4 linked regions of the Homo sapiens genome follow. The protein of the gene in region 1 interacts with the protein of each later gene in a biochemical or structural test. Each region holds a gene or a part of one and is shown on either strand. Other genes may lie near its edges.

Region 1 (7,040 bases):
CATACACAGGATAAAAAGATCATTGAGAGATGTGCCCTACTACAAGGGTTTGTGATAAAGGATTAATTTTCTTAATTACTATATTTTGTGAGAATCAATATTATTAGCTTCAAAGCAAAATTAGGATAGCCTTTGTTCTCCAGATTTGGGGATATTAGAACACTCCCAAGTCTGGGTCTGTTTGGTAAACATTATCCATCTGTTCCCTTACCCATAAACATCTAGAGGCTAGGAATACCTAACTTTCTGGGAATGCAGCGCAGCAAGTCCCAGCCTCATTTTCCTAGCCCTCACTCAAGATGGAGTTGCACTGGTTTGAATGCCTCTGACAGCTGCTTTGGAGGCCTGTCACATTTGTGCATCCCCGTGGAGGGCTAATAGAAGGGCCCGTGTGGAAGAGCTGTGGAGAAACCCCTGCCTGAAGCTCCTGCCCTGGGCGGGGAGGTGAAGCGTGCTGCCCGCCTGCGGTTGGTGAGGTCATCGAAACCTCCTCAGTTAGCGTTCAGCAACTTCTCCTTTTCAGGTGCCTGCAACTGGTATTTACAAAAGCTAAACACCCTTCATCACCAAGGCTACCATTTACCACATGACTGTCAGAAGAGAAAAATATAAATAATCCTCTCAAAATTGAAGTGACAAATATGCAGACAATTCCAGGCCAGGCCCTGGAAAATGTATTGGACAGACACTAGGCTGGCAAGGGTGACATTGTCTATAAAGACCTTGCATTTTCCACTTGAGCCCAGGAGTCCAGGGCTGCAGTGAGCTATGATCGCACCACTGCACTCCAGCCTGGGCAAGAGAGTGAGACCCTGTTGCAAAAAATAAAAAATAAAAAAAGACCTTGCGTCTTGCAACACCCACCACTCCCCGCCTGCCCAGCTCTGGATTGAGGTTATAAAAACCATAAAAGATTTGTCTCCTAAGGGTCCAAAATTATAGCTCATATAATTTTATCCTCTCCTTGCTGTATTTTGTGAATTCATTTTAAGTTCTTCTTGATGACTTTGTATACTGGCCTTTAAGTAATCTCAACGATTTATGACTGATGGCAAGCTATGTTAGTTTCCTTCCTTTCTTCTTTCATCTTTGGACATTTAAATGAGAAGCTTAAATGTTTCTCAAAAAGAATTTAAATTTGAACCCTCTTTTCTCTATGTTACAAAAGATGGCCCATCCAAGATAAATTAGGAGAGAATTTAAAGCAGGAGTCTTGGTGTAGGGGAAAGAATAGGAGAAAGAATAGGGGAAACTGATTTGGAATCCTAGCTGTACCCCATAGTGGTTGCAAGACCTTGTGCCAGTTCTCAGACCTCTGAGCTTCAATTTCTTCATCTATAAAATGGGTATAATATCTACTCCGTGTCGTTCTTGTGAGGCTGAAATGAAGATGTCTCTGTGCGTAGGCAGTGTCAGGTATGCCACAGGTGCTGTTTAGGTGTTAGGTTTCGACTTTCCCCTGTGCCTTTCCTCTAAGTGTAGAAGGAGCCGTAGCAGTGGGGGCAGGGATCTGCCCTGTGAGCGAGCCACCAGCCATGGCTGAAGGTGAAAGAGGAAGTTGTGCTCATTTGGGCAAAACCATCATTTCCTTTAAGTCCACTACCTTCCGCTCTTAAATAGGTCACCGAAAAGAACTTCAGAATGTGAGTTCTCAGTTTGTGAGGGTGACCTGGTGGACAGCTCACTATAGACCAGGTATTTGGAGTTATTTGTCCCATTGTATGGTCTTGCTACAAACTGGGCTCACATTTTTTTTTTTTTTTTTTGAAAGGGATAGGGTCTCACTCTGTTGCGCAGGCTGGAGTGCAGTGGTGCAATCATAGCTCTTACTACAGCCTTGAACTCCTGGGTTCAAGTGATCCTCCTGCCTCAACCTCCCAAGTAGTTGGGACTATTAAGTACGCACCACTGCACCCAGCTAATTAAAAAAAAATATTTTTAGCCACGCTTGGTGGCTTATGCCTGTAATCCCAGCACTTTGGGAGGCCAAGGTGGGTGGATCACTTGAGGTCAGGAGTTTGAGACCAGCCTGTCTAACCATACCCTGTCTCTACTAAAAATACAAAGAATAGCTGGGCATTGTGGCATATACCTGTAGTCCCAGCTACTCGGGAGGCTGAGGCAGGAGAATCACTTGAACCCGGGAGGCGGAGGTTGCAGTGAGCCGAGATCGCGCCATTGCACTCCAGCCTGGGGGACAGAGCGAGACTCTGTCTCAAAAAAACAAAAATTTTTTTTTTGGAGAATGGGATCTTGCCTTGTTGCCTATACTGGTCTCAAACTCCTGGATCCAACCAATCCTCCTCTCTCAGACTCCCAAAGCACTGGGATTACAGGTGTGAGCCACTGTACCCAACCTGGCTCACATTCTTACAGTTCACCAAAGGTATAGGGCTCCTAAATGGAAAATGAATGCCATGAGATCTCCTTTTTCTGAAGCTTGTCTCTCAGTGGAGTTGGACTGGTATAATGTCATTTTTCACATCTTGAAGTGGGTTGCAAATGACCAAGTGTAATTCTTGGATAGTGTTTGAAATGTGACTTTTTCTGATTATTAAGCTAGGGAAGAAGGCTTCCTTTCCAACTAACCATTTTTTTTATTGTGGTAAAATATATGTAACATTAAATTTACCATTTTAACCTGTTTTTTTGAGACAGAGTCTCACTCTGTCACCCAGGCTGGAGTGCAGTAGTGTGATCTTGGCTCACTACAACCTCCCTCTCCCGGGTTCAAGCGATTCTCCTGCCTCAGCCTCTAGAGTAGCTGAAATTACAGGCATGTGGCACAACACCCGGCTATTTTTTGTATTTTTAGTAGAGATGGGGTTTCACCATGTTGGTCAGGCTGGTCACAAACTCCTGACCTCAAGTGATCTGCCCGCCTTGGCCTCCCAAAGTGCTGGGATTACGGGCGTGAGCCACTGCGCCTGGCCCCATTTTAACCATTTTTAAGTGTGCAGTTCAATGTCATTAAGAATATTCACATTGTTGTGTGATCATCACCGCCATCCATCTCCGGAACTTTTTCATTTTCCACAACTGAAGCTCTATACCCATCAAACATTAACTCCTCATTCTCTCCTTCCCCTCCTCCGGCAATCACCATTCTACTTTCTGACTGGATGAATTTGACTAACCCAGGAACCTCACATAAGTGGACTCATATAGTGTTTGTCATTTTCTAACTGACTGATTTCACTTTTTTTTTTGTTTTTTTTGAGATGGAGTCTGGCTCTGTCGCCTAAGCTGGAGTGCTGGAGTGCAGTGGCATGATCTTGGCTCACTGCAACCTCCGCCTCCCGGGTTCAAGCAATTCTCCTGCTTCAACCTCCTGCATAGCTGGGATTACAGGTGCTCGCCATGATGCCCGGCTAATTTTTGTATTTTTAGTAGAGACGGGGTTTCGCCATGTTGGCCAGGCTGGTCTTGAGTTCCTGACCTCAGGTGATCTGCCTGCCTCGGCCTCCCAAAGTACTGGTATCACAGGCGTGAGCCACTGTGCCTAGCCTGATTTCACTCTTTTAAAAAATTCTTTATTTTTATTTATTTATTTTTAGAAACAGAGTCTCACTTTGTCACCCAGACTAGAGTGCAGTGGTGCAATTATAGCTCACTGCAGCCTCGAATTCCTAGGCTCATGTTGAGTAGCTGAGAGTATAGGCGCACACCACCATGCCGGCAAATTTTTTAATTTTTTATGGAGATGGAGTCTCGCAATATTGCCCAGGCTGGTCTTGAACTCCTGGCCTCAAGTGATCCTCCTGCCTCAGGCTCCCAAATCTCTGGGATTACAGGTGTGAGCCACCATGCCCAACCCCCTCCCCACTTTTTTTTTTTTTTTAATTCTGTGTTGTATTATTATTATTTTTTTACTCCCTGGCAGGGACCATTCCTTACTACAAACTTGATTTTCTCTGAGATTTAATTATACATCATTTGCACGCCACCCTTCTTAACTGTTTGTGTATGATCTTTGCTTTTTTTTTTTTTTTTTTTTTTTGAGATGGAGTCTCACTCTGTTGTCCAGGCTGGAGTGCAGTGGTGCGATCTCGGCTCACTGCAACGTCTGCCTCCTGGGTTCAAGTGATTCTCCTGCCACGGTCTCCTGAGTAGCTGGGACCACAGGCGCCTGCCACCACACCCGGCTAATTTTTTATATTTTTAGTAGAGATGGGGTTTCACCATATTGGCCAGGCTGGTCTCGAACTCCTGACCTTGTGATCCACCCACCTCAGCCTCCCAAAGTGCTGGGATTACAGGTGTGAGCCACCGCACCTGCCCTGATCTTTACATTTTTACCCTACTGAAGGAAAACATCACTCATCGGAAGTGATTCCATGGAATATTTTTTTTTCTTTATTTTTAGAATGAGCTCTTTATTGAATCAGGATTTGAGGTGATTATACGCTAAGCACAACACTGGATCCTATCTTTGTCTAGCGCGTGTCTTCTCAAAAATAAAAGTGCAAAATAAAAAACAAAACAAAAGAAATAAAAGTGCAAATTCTGCTCTCAGCCGGGTGCAGTGGCTCACGCCTGTAATCCCAACATTTTGGGAGGCTGAGGCGGGCGGATCATCTGAGGTCAGGAGTTCGAGTCCAGCCTGGCTACCATGGTGAAACCCCATCTCTACTAAAAATACAAAAATTAGCTGGACATGGTCACGCGCTCCTGTAATCTCAGCTACTCAGGAGGCTGAGGCAGGAGAATCACTTGAACCCAGGAGGCAGAGGCTGCAGTGAGCCGAGATGGTGGCATTGCACTCCAGCCTGGGTGACAGAGCAAGACTCTGTGTCAAAAAAAAAAAAAAAAAAAAAAAAAAAAATTCTGCTCTCATCTACCACTTCCCGAAGAGAAAGCATGAGAATGCATGCATTGAAGAGGCTGCTGGTAGCAGAGAGGAGAGGCCAGTTCATGGGGATTGTGAACATTGTTGCAGTTGCTTCCATTCAAAGGTAACTCCTCAGCCTTTCTCCTTTCAGGTGGTATAAGTTGAAATCCAAACCAGGAAAGAAGGACAAGGAGCGAGGAGAAATTGAGGTTGACATCCAGTTTATGAGAAACAACATGACTGCCAGCATGTTTGACCTTTCTATGAAAGACAAGTCTCGGAATCCATTTGGAAAGCTGAAGGACAAGATCAAGGGGAAGAATAAGGACAGTGGGTCAGACACCGCCTCCGCCATCATCCCTAGCACGACACCTTCGGTCGACAGTGATGATGAGTCTGTGGTTAAAGACAAGAAAAAGAAATCAAAGATCAAGACCTTACTTTCCAAGTCAAATTTGCAGAAGACGCCTCTTTCCCAGTCCATGTCTGTCCTGCCGACTTCAAAGCCAGAAAAAGTGCTGCTTCGTCCCGGAGACTTTCAGTCCCAGTGGGATGAAGATGACAATGAGGATGAGTCCTCCTCGGCCTCGGATGGTGAGTTTCTGCCTCTTCCTGCTTGACCTCTCTTCTTCCTCTTACCATGCTTCGTTCTGAGAGAGAAGAAACAGACAAATCTCAAGAGAAAGAGTTTAATTCAATTCCTCAATTACAAAATCATGGTGGTGGGGATGATGATAGCGGTGGTTAAGATGCCCTCTCTAAGGCTAGGCGTGGTGGCTCACGCCTGTAATCCCAGCACTTTGGGAGGCTGAGGCAGGCAGATTGCTTGAGCCCAGGAGTTTGAGACCAGCCTGGGCAACATGGTGAAACCCTGTCTCTACAAAAAATATAAAAATTAGCCAGATGTGATGACATACTCCTGTAGTCCCAGCTACTCAGGAGGCTAGGCTGGGAGGATTGCTTGAGCTCAGGAAGTAGAGGCTGCAGTAAGCTGTGATCGTGCCACTGCACTCCAGCCTGGGTGACAGAGTGAGACTCTGTCTCAAAAAAAAAAAAATGCCCTCTCTGTTTCTTTTTTTAAAATATTTTTTGTTTGTTTGTTTTAGAGACAGGGTCTTGCTCTATTGCCCACGCTGGAGTGCAGTGGCGCGATCATAGCTTACGGCAGCCTCCAACTCCTGGGCTCAAGGAATCCTCTCACCTTGGCCTTCTGAGGAGCTGGGACTACAGGTGTGCATCATCACACCTGATTAATTAAAAAAAATTTTTTTTTTAGAGATGAGGTCTCACTATGTTGCCCAGGCTGGTCTGAAACTCCTGGCTTCAAGTGATCCTCCTGCCTCAGCCTCTCAAAGGGCTCTTATGACCGGTGTGAACCATTGCCCATGGCTGAGATGCCCTCTCTATTTCTAAGCCCTCTGGTTTCTTTCCTTCTTTCTTCCTTCCTTCCTTCCTTCCTTCCTTCCTTCCTTCCTTCCTTCCTTCCTTTCTTTCTTTTCTTTTCTTTTGAGATGGAGTCTTGCTCTGTCACCCAGGCTGGAGTGCAATGGTGCGATCTTGGCTCTTTGCAACTTCCGCCTCCTGGGTTTAAGCAATTCTCCTTCCTCAGTCTCCCGAATAGCTGGGATTCCAGGTCCGTGCCACCACACCCGGTGAATTTTTGTATTTTTAGTAGAGTTGGGGTTTCACCATGTTGACCAGGCTGGTTTTGAACTCCTGACCTCAAGTGATCCACCTGCCTTGGCCTCCCAAAGTGCTGGGATTATACCCTCTGGTTTCTAAGAATGTATAAATTCCTTTTCCAGAGTTCCTGGCTCTATAAATGATGTCCACTAGTACAAGCTTTTAGAGCTAACAGAATGAGTGTCTTCCAAGTTTTTTTTTTCTTTTTTTTAAGGGTAAAACCATGGAACCTTATGGTAATTCTGATATTTCATTAATTCATCAGGTAGTTATTGAGTTCCTGTGATGTGCTCAACCCTCGTGGGATATAGCCTTATCAGAAGCCAAGGAATCTGCTTCCTTTAGCTCTGAGTTAATTATGTATTTTGAACTTCAATTTCAATGTCTAAATCCCTCCCATTGGCCGGATTCTGCTACTCTACCAAGAGTGCTGCCCTTTTCATTGGTTTAACCCAGAGTTTCTCAACCTCAGCACTGTGGACAGTTTAGACTAGACAGGCCTTTGTCGTGGGGGGCTGTGCTATAC
Region 2 (5,999 bases), on another chromosome or scaffold:
AGGCTAATTGTGTTAATTTGACACATTTTTAGAATTATCTTGCTTTTTGAGAGTAGTGTTTTTGGAGGGACAACTGGGAGAGTAAACAAAAATAAGGTACATTCTCTGTTCTTAAGGACTTTATAATCTAGTCACAGGGAACAACTTTTAGGCAGTGCAGTATAAGACCAAACGTGTTACATACAGATACTTATTGTGGAGGAATTTAGTGACATTCATGCGGTTATTTATTTATCACAACACATGTTATATGTTGCAGTACAGCAGTAAGACAGACACAGTTTTGATCCTTACAGAGTTTAACACTTAGTAAAAGAGGCAGACACTAAATTATTTTTGATAAGTGTCATGAAATAAAAATAGAGTTTACATATAACATCTTAAGTTGCCTATTTTGTATCATTCTTTAATTACAATTTAAGTTTTGTTCAGGAGGTCACTGATAAACACATTATCTTTTTTTCCCTTCCAAGAATCGTTTGGGATTTTAGCATGTTTGTTAAGATGTACTCTGCCGAATGCGTCTGATAGTGCAAATTTATTTATTTTTTGTGTGGTACAATGTCATTGTGTGTAGGCAATTTTTGTTTGTTTGTTTGTTTTTTGGGGTAAAGGTAGACTGAAAATACTCTTATGGTTTACTTTGAATCTAAGTCCATAAACAATGTAATGCTATTGGCTTACCTCTTTTTTTTTTTTTTGAGACCGAGTCTTGCTCTGTTGTCTAGGCTGGAGTGCAGTGGCACGATCTCATCTCACGACAACCTCCGCCTCCCGGGTTCAAGTGATTCTCCTGCCTCAGCCTCCCGAGTAGCTGGGATTACAGGCACCCACCATCATGCTTGGCTAATTTTTGTATTTTTGTAGAGACAGGGTTTCACCATGTTGGTCAGGCTGGTCTTGAACTCCTGACCTCAGGTGATCTGCCTGGCCTGGTTTACCTCTTTAAACAAAGATTTATTTGACTGGTGAACCTTTCCCTCTGACATGGAAAAACCTTTGTTTCTTTTCTTACCCAAAGGGCAATTGTTAAAATAAAGGGTTGAATCTAATCAGTGGCTGTTTGAAAATAAAACTTTAAATTTATGTATTCTCTGTTCAGTTTCCTTAGGGACTTTGATGCAAATATATCTCCTACCTTTATGTATCTTTTATCCTAACTATGATAGGTTTATTCACACTAAGTATTGTGGTTTCTTTTTTCCTTCAGAGATTTACCGCATTGTTTCTCAGAAGCAAATGTCAGACAGACGCGAAAATGACATGTCTCCAAGCAACAATGTGGTTCCTATTCATGTTCCACCAACCACTGAAAACAAGCCAAAGGTGCAGTGCTGTCAGAACATCTAAGGCATTTCTCTTCTCCCCTAGAAGGCTGTGTATAGTCCATTTCCCAGGTCTGAGATTTAAATATATTTGTAATTCTTGTGTCACTTTTGTGTTTTATTACTTCATACTTATGAATTTTTCCATGTCCTAAGTCTTTTGATTTTAGCTTTATAAAATCATCCACTTGTCCCGAATGACTGCAGCTTTTTTTCATGCTATGGCTTCACTAGCCTTAGTTTAATAAACTGAATGTTTGGATTCCTCAGTTATTGTTTACTTTTCATCATGGAAGCCTGTCACTGTATGTAGGACATAATAGAACTTGATCACTTGAAGCTCAGACCTATTGGTCTTGATCAAATCAAACTAAGAAGACCTTAGAAATAAGCTACCATTTTGCCACAGAGCAGCTTATAGGTAATACACTCTTCTCTCAGTGCAGTGTACATTTCCACAAATCTAAGAATTGCCCTATAAACATAGCAGGATTTTGAGAGCTTGAAAATTTTCCATTATTCTGGACATGAATTTCTAAAATGCCTTAATAGGTTTATGTAGTTGAGTAAATTTTGTTTTTTAATTTTTGTAAGCATCAAAGTTGATTAGAGAGGGGGGCACTTTTTCTGGAGAATTCTCTTAGTAAACACAAAAGATTGTTACGGTTTCATTAGTAGTATGGTTGTGGGGCCATAAGTTAAACAGTGCTGCCTGGTAGGCTGGGAACTGAAGAGACTTGTGGTATTCCATCTCGGGTGCCTCTGTTGGCAATGATCAGGCAGCCCAAAAGATTTAAATGATCTATAATAATTTCCAAGCGGTAGATTATGTGGCATTTTATTGCTCAGGCAATAATTGGTTTAATGCTGGTAGTGTCAAATTTTGAAGTGTTAATTTTGTCTTAGAACCTTCCAGTAAGTGAAATACAACCTAGTTTTATCACCATATCCACCAGCAGGCATGGATAATTATTTTAACAATGCTAATATTTGAGTTTTGCAGTATATTATAGAATATAGTCCAGTTAAATCTTTGGTTTCAGTATGTCTGAAGAGTACAGTGAGAGGTTAATTTCTGCTCAAGTGGTACCACTTAAAGGCATGTATTCTTTTAGTATGTAAAATGAAATAGTACCTTGAGTTTAAATAGAATGCATTTAGGCATTGTAGAGATCTGAAATAGTTTTCTTCCACTACATTGTTGAAATCAATGAAGCAATTAGTTTCTCATTCAGAAATGTGCACACTAATATTTAGTTTTGCTTTCTCGTGGATAATATTAAGCACTTACTCTGCAGTTTCCTGGAAGTTGTGTCAACTGCAGTGATACTATTCAGGATGGTGGGAAATCCCCAAAAATATGTATGTGTGGGCTTGCTTAGATTACTATATTTCATAGTTAATCTTTTGTCTCTTGCGGTGCTCATGATGTGTGGGGCACACGGAAGGCATTGCTGTAGTCAGTCATTTTGGTTTTCTTCTATAGCCATTTTATTATTTTAGTGTATTAGTTATGAAGATAATATTATCTATTTGTAAATTGCTACTTTGTATTTTATGCATGCTCTGTAATTTGATTTTTTTTTAGTTATTGATTTGGATTATATTCACATTCTAATAAACAGTTATAGGGGGATTATTTCTTATGCTGTCAGATTACATTTTTCCTTTGAGTGCTTTGGGTGCAGCCGTGGAATCCTGATGTAAAAGCATAGGTTCTTGCATTACTGAGTAAACATTGAATTGGGAGCATCAGTGTGTGAATTCAGCTTTGATTTTAGAACTGCAGTTCAATTATGCTTTCCTTGGAAAAAGTATGTCCAAAAACATTAGGAAAGTAGTGTGTATTTTCATATATAACAGTGTCACCAGACCCAGGAAAAGAAACCATCTCTATTTTATTGAAAGTTGGTGGTAGATTTTTTACAAAGTAAGGAGAAAAGAGAAAAACTAAATAGTGAATTGAAAATGAATAAAGTAAACTTAGAATTTTTACCCAAGTGTAGACTTAAATGTTGCTTTGAGTATGGCTGGATCTTGGGAGAATTCCAGGAAATATTAGGTATTAGAAAATGACTTTGATTGCATTTCAGCAGGTGTCTTTATTCTGAGTAGTATCTTAGGAGACAAACTGTCTCAAGCAAGAAACAATAAATTTTTAAATATTATGACAGTTCAGGGCTTAAGGCAGTTTAGAAGTATTTTGCTACTTGACCTTGATTTTCAGTTATTTTAACTTTGAATTTTTTTTTTTTTTTTTGAGACGGAGTCTTGCTCTGTTGCCCAGGCTGGAGTACAATGGCACCATCTCAGCTCACTGCAAGCTCCACCTCCAGGGTTCATGCCATTCTCCTGCCTCAGCCTCCCGAGTAGCTGGGATTATAGGCGCCAGCCACCACGACTGGCTAATTTTTTGTATTTTTAGTAGAGACGGGGTTTCACCATGTTAGCCAGGGTGGTCTCGATCTCCTGACCTGGTGATACACCCACCTCGGCCTCCCAAAGTGCTGGGATTAAAGGCGTGAGCCACCGTGCCTGGCCTTGAATTTTTTTTTAACCTGTTATATAGTCTCCTGAATAGTTAGCCATGGTGCCTTGATTTAATCTTATGTCATTGTTCTCAAATGCCATGATTTCTCTTTAATAGTAGTTGTCATTATGTAAGGGTAAGTTATTGCCCATTTAATTGTAATTATAAGAAGAGGTGCCAGCTAGTGACCTTACATCAGTGATCTTTTAAGTTCTGAAGGGTTCTGCAGAAAAGTTACACTTCTTGAGTTTGGGTTGCCCATCAGAGCTGGTCACATTTCTTTGATCATTGAAAAAATGAATATCTTAATTTTTGTCTTTGCTGACTGGTATTTATAAAATACAAATGCTTTTAGTGGGTTGAGCTGTTGTGATAATCTCTTCCATCTACCTTAGAGAAGAAGCTGTACTATTTAGACAGTTTTGGCCAACACTAGAAGCAAAAGAATTCAAAGGCTGGGTGGATATTTAAGAACTTATTCTAACCTGTCAGGTTTCAATTTGTGGGGCTTGGTTTAACAGAGGAAAAAAATATAAATTGATTTTCTGATGTCTCACAAATATCACATACCTGGAAAAAAATTAAAACAAAAAATGAATTTTGTAAAAGGTTATGTATGACTTCCATTTGCTCTGTAAAAAAATGAACAAAGATTGTGAAAGGATCCTCTTCCACCACATCATTTAATGGGTTAGCGGAACAGATAGGGAGCTATGACACTAGCACCAAAGAGAGATTTTTCTTCTGGTTGGGTGGTGCTGGTGCCACGCCCCTTTCTGGGATTTGACAAGTCTTTCCCACTCACCTATACAATATGCCAAATCAACTGGAGTTGTCATTCTAATGTTTTAAAGAATGATTGGGTTCCCCCAAACTGTAGGAGGTCGATGGTAACAATAAAGTGATACAAAATGCTTATGTCATTATAATTTATGTAAGGGAGACCATTAGGCTGAGAATCAATATGATTGAGGTTATCTATTCTCCTGAAAAGTGAATTGGAGAATAAAGAAAGAATATTTGAAAGGATGTTGTGTACTAGGCAATATACTAGCATGTATTAGAAAATACGGTAAACTGTGGGTTAGAAGAGTGAAAGTAGCTGGTATGATAGAGCACTGGACTGAGTAACGAAGAGATTCTAGTCATGGCTCTTGTGGTCATTTCATTTTTGAGCCTCACATTCTTCCAATTAATGAGGGTACCAGATTAAATAAACTCTGGGGATTCATCCCAATTCGAACTCTGTAATTCTCTGAATGAACTCTCTCTTCAATTAAAGCCAAATTATTAACATTTTAACTCAAGTTTAAATTTAATAGAGAAGTCAAAATGAGGTATGCACTTTGTGGAATGTTTTTGGTCTTATCACAATAACCTGATTAAAATGGTGCCTTTATTTCCATGTTTACTCCTTTAAATAAGATGAAAGCTTTCAGAACATTTATTTGCAAAATGACTGTCAATATCAACAATATGCATCAAAGTACCATATATGCTAAGGGAGAGGAGCACTTGATGGGCTGCTATGTTAACTGTAAATTGAGAACTGCTTGTTTTATGGCTTTTGCTGTTAAAAAAAAACTGCTGGCTTTTAATATGTACTTTAAAATATACTCATGTCTGGGAGAGAACTTTTAAAAACATTTTGTGTTTAATTTTTAAAAAATTATTTCTTTAATAGGAATCTACAAGAAGGTAGATCAGTCCACAGGCTAGCTATCCAGTAGAACCAGTGATTAAATCCAAGTGTACAGGTTTATGTGTGCATGTACATGATACACATGGTATTTTGGGGTTGTTGATCTAGTGATCTAATTATTAATAGTCAAAACATTATTTAAATTCAATTCTTTGACATTTATTAATTATAGGATAGTTCCTGACACGGGTGTGAGCACAAAATGTTATGTATATTGGCTAACTATGTTACCAGTACCAGTGATGGTAGTGAGAATTAGCAGCCAACAGGATTCCTTTACTATGTTTGAGTCAGTGGAACTTAACCTTGCTCCAAACCACAAAATCTCAGACCTTTTTAACTCTCATCCCAATGAATAATGTACTGTTTTTAGCACCTGTCCCCCTGTTGACAACCTCTAATCTCTCAGCATACCATTTTCTCAGGTATTTCTAGGGAAGTG
Region 3 (7,040 bases), on another chromosome or scaffold:
CTCGCTCTGTCACCCATGCTGGAGTGCAGTGACACAATCACGGCTCACTGCCACCTCCATCTCCCCATCTCAAGTGATCCTCCCACTTCAGCCTCCTGAGTAGCTGGGACCACAGGTGCATGCCACCACACCTGGCTAATTTTTTTTTTTTTTTTAATTTTTTTTGTAGAGACGAGGTCTCTGTCTGTTGCTCAGTCTCATCCCGAACTCCTGGGCTCAAGTGATCCTCGTGCCTCCACCTCCCAAAATGTTGAGATCACAGGCATGAGCCACTGTGCCCTGCTGAAATGTACTGTTTATGAGCTACCTCTCATTAATGTGTTCATTTAATATGCTTTTTAACATATTAAAACAGTATTTCACCTTCCATAGACTGAGTAGTGTTGAACATTTTTGTTGCTTTGAAGTCACCACATGAATACTGTACTTTATGTAATATCGTGAAACAAATTGAAATCTTAGGTTTTGGATGAAACCCTTAGTCTGAATATGAAACAGTTCTACCAAATGCCATTAGATACACTACATTCTTAAAGCCCTGGCCAGTTAGTATGGCTTGGGACTTCCCAAGGAACTCTGCTTCAGCCATCTGAGACCTGGGAGATTACAAATTGGCTGAAAGTAATTTTGATGCTAAGCAGCGATGTTCAGAAAGGAGCTGAAAAGTATATGTAGTGGGAAAATGCCAGGAATTTCTTTTGAAATTAAGTGCTGGGGCAGTTCGAGAGTGAGGAAAAATCTAATACAAAATCTCTACATATATTAGAGTTTATGCCGTCTACAATGGGAATAACAAATGAAACAGAAGAATACAATTCAAATTGCTGGTTCTATGCTCATTTTTATTAAAATATACTCTTAATGTTTTTATTTTGTGCTTCATTTTGAAAACAGCACAGTATTACAGTATTTGCCATATAATTTTGAGAATTATCAGAATATTTTCCTTAAAAATGTATCATTTTAGGCTGTTCAGGTTGAATTGTGTTCCCCAAAATATCTGTTTAAGTCCTAACCCCTAGTACCTGTGAATGTGACCGCATTTGGAAATAAGGTCTTTGCAGATGTAATCAAGTTAAGATGAGGTCATCGTACTGAATTATGGTGAGCCCTAATTCAGTGACTGGTGTCATTATAAGATGAGGGAAACTTAGACACAAATGCATTCAGAGAGAAAGAGATGTGAGGATGGAGGCCAAGATTGGAGGGATGCATCTACCAGCCAAGGAGTGCCAAGGGGTGGCTGGCAACCACCAGAAGCTAGAGAGAGGCAAGGAGGGATCCTTCCCTTGAGCCTTCAGAGAGACCTTGACCCTGTCAGCACTCTGAATTTGAATGCCCGGCCTCCAGAACTGTGAGACAATAAACTTCTGTTGTTTTAAGCTTCCCAGTTTGTGGTTCTTTGTGATGGCAGCCCTAAGAAACTAAAATATAGGCTTTGCTCATCAAAATACGATTCATGAGAAATTTAGGATGACAAGGCAAGATGAAGTGAAGAAGATATCCTTGGTAAAGGAAATAGCATTTCTTTTCCTTTTTTTTTTTTTTTTTTTTCTTTGAGATAGAGTCTCTCACTGTTGCCCAGGCTGGAGTGCAGTGGCACAATCTCGGCTCACTGCAACCTCCACCTCCCGGGTTCAAGCGATTCTCCTGCCTCAGCCTCCCAAGTAACTGGGACTACAGGCGCCCGCCACCACACCTAGCTAATTTTTTTTTTGTATTTTTAGTAGAGGCGGGGTTTCACTATGTTGGTCAGGCTGGCCTCCAAACTCCTGACCTCATGATCCCGCCCTTCTCAGCCTCCCAGAGTGCTGGGTTTACAGGCGTGAGCCACCGTGCCCGTGTATAAATAGCATTTCAAAGTCACCTGGTTCCAATAAAGTATGAAATAACTTGCTCTTAGGGAAATCACCCCAATTGCCCTTTACCTTAATTTCATGAAAGATGGAACAGGTAAACATGTCAACAAAGGAATCCTGTAACACCAAAACAAAGGACATTTCTTCAAGTTGAATAAATATATGATTATACATGTTTGTCATTTTCTTTTTCTCATTCACTGAAAGCTGGTGAACATTTCAAGTACCAAAGTTTGGGAAACATTGCACCAGTGGCTTATCAAACTAATGTGCACACGAGTCCCCTGGTGTATTAAAATGTAGATCCTGACTTGGAGGGTGAGGGAGATCGGCATCTGACCAGCTCCCGGGCCGTGCAGGTGCTGTTGGTCCAGGGAGGCATGTAATGACTCCATGCTCGAGAACTTTGAAAGCATGGTTTTTTGAAAAAACAAAATATTCTTTCTCATGGTCATTTGAACTGTAAAGTATTCCAATCCATGCCTGTGACTTTACTGCTGATGCTCTGATGACTGTAACATCTATATTTCTAGTCACATCCTTCACTCAAACTACAGATCTTTTTTTCAGCTACCTAACTACACCTGGGTGGCCTACAGGCATCTGAATGCAGTACGTCCCAAACCCAACAAATTATTCACGCCTATGCCCCATCTTCTATTTTTCCTGTGTTTGCCTAGAAGATAAAGTTAGAGTCCATTTTTAATTCTTCCCCATCCTTACCTCCTGGATCTATTGGGTTTCAGAGTCTTTTGAGCTGACTTCTTAACATGGTTTAAGTTACTGTTTACCCTGAAAGATGCAAAGGAAAGTTAAATTAGGGCCAGTTTACATGATTAAAAGGTAAGCAAATTGGGTTTCATTCCAAAGTTCTTCGTCGTAGTGACTTGAGCAGCTGTGCTGACTATCTTACAGCTTGCCACACAGCATCTGCACCACTGTCCCTAGGCAGCTTCCACAGCACCTGGAACCTGGGTTCATGAGGATACAAGAGCCTCCTGGGCCAGGATGGGAGTAGTTTTCCACTTTAGAAGAACTATATATCTATATATAATATAGATATATATAATATATATAGTTTATATATAAATTATTTACAATTTATATATAATTATTTATAATTTATATATAATTATTTATATTTATATAAATTATTATTATATCAGTGGAAAGTAACAAAGAGTTGGCCTGCTAAGTAACTGCCTTCCTCAAATCAGCCTCCTCAGTGTGTGTGATCCCAACGAATGGGTCAGGAAAATCAAAGACCCAATCACGAACCTGGAGCAATTGTTGGGAGTCTGTGCTGCAAATGTTAAATTTACAAGCGTCAGGATTCCGCTGTGCCGACAACGTTTAATTCAGGCTTAGGTAAACCGCGGCTCCTACAGGCACACTGCAGAGTCCCATGATTAGCTTTTGCTGCCTGTTCCACCTCCTTTACTTCTTATTCTTCCCGCTCCTCTACAGGTCGTGTGCTCTTCTGCTGCCCAAACCTTCCACCTCTCCTAACCAGCATTTCATCAAGGTTCCCACTGTTCAATTCCTCCCTGACCATTGTACCAAAACTTTTTGTCCTTTAAAGTACATGTCATCTTATATTCTGTCCTCTGCCAGCTCCTCGTTGCTGTTATCTGATGACCCTGGGGATAGTCCTTTTTCAACAAGGTCATCTATCATATGGTCTTGCTCTTTGCTCTAACTCCTGACTGATCCTAGGTCACTGCATTGTCCTTGCAGAGGTCAATCAACAACTCCGCTCCACAGTTCCTTGACTTTAGTCAAGATGAAGTCAGGTCTCTTCTACCACCTCTTCAGGTACTCACTTCCCTGACTGCTCCCTGGACTTTGTCACCTATCCCATTCTGACCACTCCAACTCCATCCAGTCTTCACTGTAAGAGCTTCAGGCTGCTGGTCCATCTCCTCCCTTTCTTCTTTTTTTCTGAGACAGAGTCTCACTCTGTTGCCCAGTCTGGAGTGCAGTGGCATTATCTCAGCTCACTGCAACCTCCACCTCCTAGGTTCAAGTGATTCTCGTGCCTCAGCCTCCTGAGTCGCTGGGATTACAAGTGTGCGCCACCACGCCTGGCTCATTTTTGTATTTTTAGTAGAGACGGGGTTTCACCATGTTGGCCAGGCTGGTCTCGATCTCCTAACCTCAAGTGATCCACCCACCTTGGCCTCCCAAAATGCTGGGATTACAGGCATGATCCACCATGCCTGGCCCCTTTCTTCTTTTCAGGCAATGAGCTGCTCTCTCTTCAGATAAGACTCATGGCTTTTCCTTCCACCTCGTCCTTCTTTTTCTTTCAACTACACACACTTTGCACAGCTCCAGCCCTGGCTACCCAGCCATCTGCCTTGCCTGCTGTGCAGACAGAGCTCCTTTTAGATTGAGATCATTGCAGATGTATGGTCTCTGCTTCCAGCTGGGTACTCAGTAATACTTAGCAATCATTTTTCTTATCCTGGCCACCTCTCTCTCCACATCAGCTATTTTAAACCTTCACACATCTCCTCAAGCCCATTCTCTCACTCCTAGTAGATGACCACCAGTAGATGTAAGGAAAAGATGCCATGTCTGCAAACTTGCTTACCTCATCCTTAACCCTTTCCATGTTGTCTCAGAAGGTCTCTGTTGTTTAAAACTAACCCCAGCCTTCTACTTTGGACCCCATCTCTAAAGCTTCAAGTCCCCACTTCACCCATCATGTCTGTTCCCCTCCTTTTCCCTTTCCACTGGTAGCTTCCTGACTTTGCGCCTTCCTCCTTTAACCACCTCTGTCTCTCCTTTCCCTCACAGCTAAACTGCTTATAAGAGCTGTCAGTACTTTTTGTCAACAGTTTTACTTCCTTCATTCTTCAACTGACTGTAATTAGGATTTTGCCCCCACCTGAAATGATGTTGGTTTCACCAGAGATGCTGATGATCAGTCAGTGGACACTTGGCAGCCTTTATCTTACTTAGCTTCTCTTTTCATATTCGGCCCTTATAAGAACTGCTTCCCCAAATCTCCACTGTGTTGGCTTACAGGTATTTTCAACTTAATCTCTGAATTGGCAACTTATTATTTTACCTTAAAGCCTATTCCTTCTCAGAACCTTCAGCATCTCTTATCTCAGTTTTCGTAATCACAGACCCTAAGCCTTTAATTCCTAAAGAAGGAAACCTTCTTTAAATGACTCCATTCTACCCAAATTCTAGTGCTATACCACAGCACTTAGCCTTTTCTGCCAGGAAGTAGGACACATGAAATGCATCATACAGTCAGAGGCCATACATCCGTGCTTCCTTTCTGACATTTGGAAATCTTGAAAGCAAGACGATTGCTTGGGGAAAAAACTAGGAAGGCAGAGGTCATCGTGTCTGCTGAATATGGCTTAATTTTCTTGAACACTCAAGGTCATCATTGACTATTGACTGCTGCACAGAATGTGCTGTGCTATTACGGCCACTTTCTAGCTCATCCCCTGCTGTCCCCATCTGCCTTTGTGCCTGTAGTTCACAGTCCTACTTTAGTATATACCTTTGATCTACTGCAGTTTGGGGCATTAGGTAATAGAGGCTGCTTGAAGTGAATGTAAAACAAGTCAGTCAATTCCAAATGAGGTGTCTCCTGTAGAGTTAATCTTTTTTGGCTTTATGTTTGCTATTTCAGTGGCTAGGAGACCTTTTTTTCCTGGTCTTTATTTTGTCTGTGTTCCTGAATGGCTGACATTTGCTCAAGATTGAATTCTAATTATTTGATACCTTTCCTATTATCTCATTTGACTTTTCTCATACGGAAAGTTAAAAGTACATTAGTAGGATGTATCTGTTTTAGATTTTCTGTTTTGGGGTGTGGTCTTTCCCTTCAATCTTAATTCATTCTGGAGAAAACCCTTATCAGGTGAATATAATTATAAACTGAGTGAGAAAAATTTATTGTGAATTTGAGCCCTCAAGTTAACGTTCACTATAATAAACACCGAATCTAATTTAAGTGGGCACAATTATTTAACCAGTTGACACTTAGTTATATAACCTACATAGGCATTTTGCCTTCATTAATTACTCTGTAATATGGCTATTCACCTGTTCCTGTTAAGCCTTTCTGTAGTTGTTAAGCACTATACACTTAACATATAAAACATACACATGGTATGCTATATATATGTCATCCACTGTTAAGCAAGGAAAAAGAAAAAACCACAGATTAAAAATACAAAATAAACCCATAAAACTAGTACAGATTCTGCCATATTCTGATATGGAGTCATGATGAGTGAGATCATCATTGCTGCAAACCAGCAAACATTGAACACTCTGAGAGAACATGATGCATTCCTGCCAGAATGATTTCTGTGAGATCCAGGTAATTCAGCACTAACTGAAACTCCTCATGAAGTTGGATTCTCATCATCTACCAAGGAATAATTCATTATCTCCTTATAGTTTTATCTGCGTTATCTAAATACATGTATCACCACACAGAAAAAGAATTGATGGACAGCTCAGCTGCTTATCTGCTGCTCCTTCCTTGTGGTATTGTTTCCTTCTTGAATCCTTTGCTAGTTCTTCCAGTTTGGGGACTGTGCATAGTAAACGTACAGAGTCATTGTCTGATAATATCACGTATTTTTTTTTCCGTTAAGCTTTCTATTTTGAGATCATTGCAGATTCATATAGTTTTAAGAAAAAATACGGAGTTCTCATGCACCTTTTTCCTAGTTTTCTCCAATGGGAAAAACTTACAAAACTGTTGCAGAATATCACAACTAGGATATTGATGTTGACACAGATACAGGACACTTCCGTCACCACAAGATCTCTCCTGTTGCCCTTTTATAGGCACAGACTTCCTTCCTATCACCACATTTTCCTTAGCCTTTGGCAACCACTATTCTCCATTTCTATGATTTTGTCATTTTAAGAATATTATATAAATGGAATCTTGCAGTTGCAATTTTTTCGGATTGACTTTTTCACTCAGTATAATTCTCTGGAGATACATTCCAGGTTATTGCATGTATTGACAGTTTAATCCTTGTTATTTCCGAGTAGCATTTCTTGTTATGAGTGTACCAAAGATTGTCTAACAATTTACCTGTTAAAGAACATCTGGGTTGTTTCCAATTTTGGGCTATACCAATACAACTGCCATAAACATTCATATACAGGGTTTTATATGACTCAAAGTCT
Region 4 (7,040 bases), on another chromosome or scaffold:
CTGGAGTGCAGTGGTGCGATCTCAGCTCATTGCTCATTGCATTGCAAGCTCCGCCTCCCGGGTTCACACCATTCTCCTGCCTCAGCCTCCCGAGTAGCTGGGGACTACAGGCGCCCGCCACCACGCCCGGTTACTTTTTTGTATTTTTTTTAGTTTCACCATGTTGGCCAGGATGGTCTCGATTTCCTGACTTTGTTATCCACCCGCCTTGGCCTCCCAAAGTGCTGGGATTAATTTTATCATTTTCAAAGTCATATGAAGCTGTTCTCTTTGCACATTTTAAAATATTCTATTTAGAGTAAAGAAAGTTTATATTAGAGAATTAGGAACATTTGGAAAAGTAGAAATAAAAACTTGTTCTATTCTCATAGTCGTATTGTACATAGCACGTGTGTGTGTATTTTTAACCCATTTTCTTCTTCGGAATCTTTTTTTTTTTTTTTTTTTTGAGATGGAGTCTCACTCAGCTGCCCAGGCTAGAGTGCAGTGGCGTGATCTTGGTTCACTGTAACTTCTGCCCCCTGGTTCAAGTGATTCTCCTGCCTCAGCCTCCTGAGTAGCTGAGACTACAGGCACCTGCCACCACGCCCGGCTAATTTTTGTATTTTTACTAGAGGCGGGGTTTCACTATGTTGGCCAGACTGGTCTCGATCCCTTGACCTCATGGTCCACCCGCCTTGGCCTCCCAAAGTCCTGGGATTACAGGTGTGAGCCACCATACCTGACCCAGAATCTTTTCTTATGCACAGCATGCAGTAAAGGTGCCCAAACTGTAGGTGCCCAGGTGGCCCAGGACCCTTTCTTGGCTGCCTGCAGACCCTGGGTCCCTTCCTGCACTGTGCCCCCTACACCCTGCTGCCCTGGGTCAGGGCAGAGGTTAGACTGCCTGCCGTTGAGCCTGACGCATGCATTTCCTTCTGTCTGCCTTCTGCTTATTGCTGTGTCTGTGATATTTATCCACATAGTTGTGTTTTCTAGTCTTGAAATTATTTAAAAAATATGTAATAGATACATATAAAGTATGTATGTATGTTTAAAAATATGTAATGCATGGGCCAGGCGCGGTGGATCACGCCTATAATCCCAGCACTTTGGGAGGCTGAAGTGGGTGGATCATGAGGTCGGCAGATGGAGACCATCCTGGCTAACACGGTGCAACCCCGTCTCTACTAAAAATACAAAAAATTAGCCAGGCATGGTGGCGGGCGCCTGTAGTCCCAGCTACTCGGGAGGCTGAGGCAGGAGAATGGTGTGAACCTGGGAGGCGGAGCTTGCAGTGAGCCTAGATCGCGCCACTGCACTCCAGCCTGGGCGACAGAGTGAGACTCCGTCTCAAAAAAAAAAAAAAAATGTAATACATGCATATGTGTTTTTTTAATTATAGAAGAATAATGGTAAAAGCAATAGTTCCCCTGGCCGTCTTCCAATCCCCCTCCTCCAATCCTACTCTTTCCCCCAGGGGACCGCAGTCAGCAGTTAGAGCCTTCCAGGCCTTCTTTCTTGTGCATTTAACTATAGTTGTATATTATACTTCTATGTGTGCATGTGCATATGTGTGCTCACATGTAACTGCTTCTGTTCCCTGAGCACGGCTGGGATTATACCATACACAGTGTCCTAAATGTGTGTGTATGTGTACGCACACACATGTCCTGCAGATCTTCCTCTACAGGCCTCCTCGGAACCGAAGCCTCCTGGATGGCACCCTAGCTCATGGGCCACTTTCCCACTGGCCGATGTGCCGGTGCTTTCTCTTGTTTGCTTAGCCTCCCTGATTTTCCCTTTGCCACTGTGGGTCCGCGTTGAGTGGCGTGAGAGGGTAGCTGTTGGCTCTATTTGCTCTACTTCCACTGCGAGTGGAACAGAGCAGGCGCTCAACACGTGAGTTTTCAATATTACTATGAATAATATTGCTGTGCGCACCTCTCCAGAGGTGCCACCAAGCTGAAGTGGGGCGGCCGTGGTTGAGGGCCCAAGTCTGACCCGTGGGTGCTCAACAGCACTAGCGGCCGGGCCCCCTTGCCAGTGCTCCCGTTGTCTGGGACATCTTGGTGGACAGAGGCCACGTGGCCCGTTGCTATCCTCAGGACCTTGGACACAACTCATCTTCCAGGACTTGGTGGTACCAAGGGAGTTGCCCAAGATCAGCCAATTCCTAGTCTTTCTATTGCATTGGACGTTTCTGGATGTCACAGTTCTGAGAGTTTGATTAGCATCCACTGCACAGCTAGTGCAGTTATGACTATAGAGATTTATCCATTCATTCCCCGCTCAGTCATTCACTCACTCGTTCGCTTATTCAACAAATAAGCATTACAGAAGACTTGGGGTGTGTCCCTAAGAATTGTAGTCTGGTCAGGACAATAAGCTGAAACAGTAAGACAGAACAGGGTTAGGAAGCATGAAGGAAGGAGGTGAGCTGTACGGAGTGCTTTTGTGTTTTAGGGACTACGTTGGGTGCTTCCTCGTAAGTTGTCTCCTTTAGTTCTCCTGGTAATCCTGGGAGTGTAGTCTGATTTTTAGCAAATGGATGCTGAAGCTGAGTGAATTGTTACACTGGGCATCAGGTCCTCGAAGAGACCCCAGGTGATGTGCTCAGACAGCAGGTGGGGGTCTCGGGTCTCCACGGGGGTCAGGTCCTGGTGCTTCCCCACTGGAGGACCTACGGTCCCTGGGGCTGCCCTGGGTTGAGGTCCCAGCAGCTCAAGGCCTGTGTGCAGTCGGCAGATCACATCCTTCATGCCCTGACTGCATGCTGGCCAGAACTGAGTGGCGTGGCGATGCCTGGCTGCCAGGGCAGCTGGAGGATGTCCTCATGTTTCCTGAGTTGCTGTCATGCTGAAAGTCAGAGATCCACAGTTTCACAATCTCTTAGCCAAAATTATGAAATCCAAAAAGCCCCCAACACTGAAATATTTTTCTTAGAATTGATGCTAAAAGCATTGGACGGTCAAATTGGCCCTAAGCACGTGAGAAGCTGTTTGTGGTTTTCCCTTGACCTCTGCAGTTTGAGTGTTCAGAGGCCTTGCTGCAGACACAGGGCAGTGGATGCCCGTGAAGCCCTCTCCCCAGCCTGCTGGGGTCTCCCTAGCAAGTGGTCATATGACTTTTCTGAAATCCCCAAACACATCTGGCCCAAGGGTTTTGATGGAAGGGCCGTGGACCCAGGTGACTGTGGAGAGAACGGGTACTGAGGCTGCAGCAGCCCGCTAAGGCCCCAAGAGCATGGGTGAAGATGCAGTGCTGCCCAGGGGCCTCAGCTTTGTGTCTGGACTGTGCCCCAGAAGTTGCCCAGACTCTTTGGCAAGGGGCTTTGTGAGACCCTCGTGGTGTGCATTCGCCTCCTGTCTTACCTGATCCTGCAGGAGGATGTGCAGTTTCCTAGCATTTGCATGGGGTTTGTCTCAAGCATGGGATGGATGGAGAGCGGGAGAGGGAGGTACAGGGGAGAGAGAGATGGGAGACATGGAGGGAGAGAGGCGGGAGACATGGAGGGAGAGAGGCAGGCAGACGCAGACCCTCAGCCTCCCCCTCAGTTCCCCTCAGAAAACTGCTTTTCCTCAGAACTTGGCTCACAATCCCTTTCTCTGTGGAACCCACCCTTGGGTTGTATCCTTCCTCTTCCGTCTTTTTTTTTTTGAGATGGTCTTGGCCATTGCCCAGGCTGGAGTGCAGTGGTGCGATCACAGCTCACTGCAGCCTAGACTCCTGTGCTCAAGCGAGGTTCCCGCTTCAGCCTCCCAAGTAGCTGAGACTACAGGTGTGTGTCACCACGCTGGCTAATTTTTAAATGTTTTGTAGAGACGAGGTCTCACTATGTTGCCCAGGCTGGTCTCGAACTCCTGGGCTCAGCCTCCCACAGTGCTGGGATTACAGGTGTGGGCCACTGTGCCCGATCCTGTCCTCTTTCTGAGCCTCTGGTATACCTTTATTAGGTTGCTGATGTTAACCTGTGTGTCTGTCCCCGAGTGAGGTGGTGCGGTCACATTCTGTGCATCTGGTGCCCAGTGTCAGTCTGTCATGTGGAGGCCAGTGGCTGGGCTGACAGGAGGCCTGGGTCCCTTGGCTCTGTGATCATCCTGTCTGGACTGTGGCAGCCTCCTCATGGGTCACCATGTGCTGAATGCTGGAGGACATTGTGTGCCACCTCTTAGGAGCCGCCCTCACCAGCCTCCTCTCTCTTTTTCGGCCCGTGTCCCCTTCTTTTTTTGTTTGTGTTTGAGACGGAGTCTCACTCTGTCACCCATCTCACCAGTGAGCTGGTACAATCTCAGCTCACTGCAACCTCTGCCTCCCAGGCTCAAACCATTCTCCTGCCTCAGCCTCCAAGTAGCTGGGATTATAGGTGCCTGCCACCTCACCGGGCTAATTTTTGTATTTTTAGTAGAGACAGGACTTTGCCATGTTGGCCAGTCTGGTCTCGAACCTCCTGACCTCAAGTGATCTGCCCACCTCGGCCTCCCAAAGTGCTGGGATTACAGGCGTGAGCCACCACGCCCGGCCCCCTGGCCCCTGGCCCCTTCTGTGTGGGCCCCATCTGAGAGCCATTTCCCAAATCTGAGAGCCATTTCCCTAGTCGGCTGTGAAATCGGATGGTGTTTGTAGTCAATCAGTTGTTTTTTTACTGTTGTGGAGTTTACCAGGGACTCTCCAATCTCTCTCTCGTTTCCTCTCACACCTCCTCAAGGCAGCAGCACGGACTTCCCCTTGCAGGTGGGGCCGAGGCTAGGCTGCACGGCTGACGGGGGGTTTGGGGGCCCTGAGATGAAGCGAGAGCGCTGACCAAAGCATTGGCAAGTTCTCCTGTACTTTACTGTTGGGCTTTTGGTAGCATTCTCTGCAAAATCATTTCTAAATGTGGACTTAATTTGGAGAAATTTGAGACTAAGTGCTTTATTTTTTAACTTGGTCACAAAATTTGGTCTTTTTCTTGTTATAAATTGGTGGCATTAAATGCTTTGTACTTAGTTCTAATGGAGAATCGGTGCAATCTCTCCTTTTGACTCATCTGTGGCCCTACATGATGGTCACCCATGTCATTATCCCCAGGGTGGACAATGTCCCAGAAGGAAGCCTGCCAGTGCACGGTGAACAGGCGCTGCCCAAGGACCAGCAAATCACTGCCTTGGGGAGAGAGGAACCTGTGGCAATAGAGAGCCCCGGACAGGATCTTCTGGGAGAAAGCAGGTCTGAACCAGTGGATGTGAAGCCATTTGCTTCCTGCGAAGATTCTGAAGCTCCAGTCCCAGCTGAGGATGGGGGCAGTGATGCTGGCATGTGTGGCCTGTGTCAGAAGGCCCAGCTAGAGCGGATGGGAGTCAGTGGTCCCAGCGGTTCAGACCTTTGGGCTGGGGCTGCCGTGGCCAAGCCCCAGGCCAAGGGTCAGCTGGCGGGGGGCAGCCTCCTGATGCACTGCCCTTGCTATGGGAGTGAATGGGGCTTGTGGTGGCGAAGCCAGGACTTGGCCCCCAGCCCCTCTGGGATGGCAGGCCTCTCGTTTGGGACACCTACTCTAGATGAGCCGTGGCTGGGAGTGGAAAACGACCGAGAAGAGCTGCAGACCTGCTTGATTAAGGAGCAGCTGTCCCAGTTGAGCCTTGCAGGAGCCCTGGATGTCCCCCACGCCGAACTCGTTCCGACAGAGTGCCAGGCTGTCACCGCTCCTGTGTCGTCCTGCGATCTGGGAGGCAGAGACCTGTGCGGTGGCTGCACGGGCAGCTCCTCAGCCTGCTATGCCTTGGCCACGGACCTCCCTGGGGGCCTGGAAGCAGTGGAGGCCCAGGAGGTTGATGTGAATTCGTTTTCCTGGAACCTCAAGGAACTCTTTTTCAGTGACCAGACAGACCAAACGTCATCAAATTGTTCCTGTGCTACGTCTGAACTCAGAGAGACACCCTCTTCCTTGGCAGTGGGCTCCGATCCAGATGTAGGCAGTCTCCAGGAACAGGGGTCGTGTGTCCTGGATGACAGGGAGCTGTTACTACTGACCGGCACCTGTGTTGACCTTGGCCAAGGCCGACGGTTCCGGGAGAGCTGTGTGGGACATGATCCAACAGAACCGCTTGAGGTTTGTTTGGTGTCCTCTGAGCATTATGCAGCAAGCGACAGAGAAAGCCCAGGACACGTTCCTTCCACGTTGGATGCTGGCCCTGAGGACACGTGCCCATCAGCAGAGGAGCCAAGGCTGAACGTCCAGGTCACCTCCACGCCCGTGATCGTGATGCGCGGGGCTGCTGGCCTGCAGCGGGAGATCCAGGAGGGTGCCTACTCCGGGAGCTGCTACCATCGAGATGGCTTACGGCTGAGTATGTCCCGGGCCCCATAGGAAGAAGTGTGGTGCTCCCAGAGCACAGTGCAGTGGGGGTGCAGGGCCTTCCTTGTTCTGGGGTCTGATGGGGTTTCACCCTGGAATAGTGTTAGCAGAAATCATGTTTTCAAGGAGAATGCATATCATCCACCCCTAGAAAATTAAGATTACGAATGTGTGTGCCTGGGGAGGGTGGCGCCCAAGGTCCCAGGCCACCTGCCCCATGCCCGTCAGTTCCAGCTGTGCCCCCTGACTCAGGCCATACACTTAGAGAGCCGCTCCTCCCAGCAGCCTGGGGAGATCCCGTCGGGAGCAGGAGAAGCGTGGGGGTGTCACGCTAGAGTCTGTCTCTCCACCTCCCACCAGCCCCCACCTCAGTGGTCACACAGACAGGCCGAGAGGGATGTGAGCGTGGTGAGATGCTCACGTGTTCTTCTTCCGTGCTTTTGGTGTTTAGGCTGCCCTGATCTCTGAAAAACCTGCCCTTCTGTGAGGGTCATGTGATCGGGCCCCTCTGCTTGCCCCTTTGAGATTGATTCTGTTTTACTTTCTTTTTTATTTTCATTTCTTTTTTTTTTTTTTTTCTTTTTTTTTGAGACAGAGTCTCTCTCTGTTGCCCAGGCTGGAGTGCAGTAGCGCGATCTCAGCTTACTGCAAGCTCCGCCTCCCGGGTTCATGCCATTCTCCTGCCTCAGCCTCCCTAGTAGCTGGGACTACAGGCACCCACCAGCAC

What was found.
Region 2: the proteins of RAB11FIP1 (region 1) and RAB11A form a complex in vitro, tested with the Homo sapiens proteins (2 studies listed by BioGRID, with this or other methods).
Region 3: the proteins of RAB11FIP1 (region 1) and RAB4A form a complex in vitro, tested with the Homo sapiens proteins (one study listed by BioGRID).
Region 4: of the proteins of RAB11FIP1 (region 1) and PASK, one has a biochemical effect on the other in vitro, tested with the Homo sapiens proteins (one study listed by IntAct).

What each region holds. Positions count from the first base shown.
Region 1 is NC_000008.11:37,875,494-37,882,533, reverse strand, and holds part of RAB11FIP1 (rab11 family-interacting protein 1), read left to right. Parts: intron 1-4,982; coding exon 4,983-5,425; intron 5,426-7,040. UniProt on the Homo sapiens protein: A Rab11 effector protein involved in the endosomal recycling process. Also involved in controlling membrane trafficking along the phagocytic pathway and in phagocytosis. Interaction with RAB14 may function in the process of neurite formation.
Region 2 is NC_000015.10:65,886,491-65,892,489, forward strand, and holds the end of RAB11A (ras-related protein Rab-11A), read left to right. Parts: intron 1-1,210; coding exon 1,211-1,350; 3' UTR 1,351-5,499; downstream 5,500-5,999. UniProt on the Homo sapiens protein: The small GTPases Rab are key regulators of intracellular membrane trafficking, from the formation of transport vesicles to their fusion with membranes.
Region 3 is NC_000001.11:229,274,081-229,281,120, forward strand, and holds part of RAB4A (ras-related protein Rab-4A), read left to right. Parts: intron 1-7,040. UniProt on the Homo sapiens protein: The small GTPases Rab are key regulators of intracellular membrane trafficking, from the formation of transport vesicles to their fusion with membranes.
Region 4 is NC_000002.12:241,125,461-241,132,500, reverse strand, and holds part of PASK (PAS domain-containing serine/threonine-protein kinase), read left to right. Parts: intron 1-5,049; coding exon 5,050-6,305; intron 6,306-7,040. UniProt on the Homo sapiens protein: Serine/threonine-protein kinase involved in energy homeostasis and protein translation. Phosphorylates EEF1A1, GYS1, PDX1 and RPS6.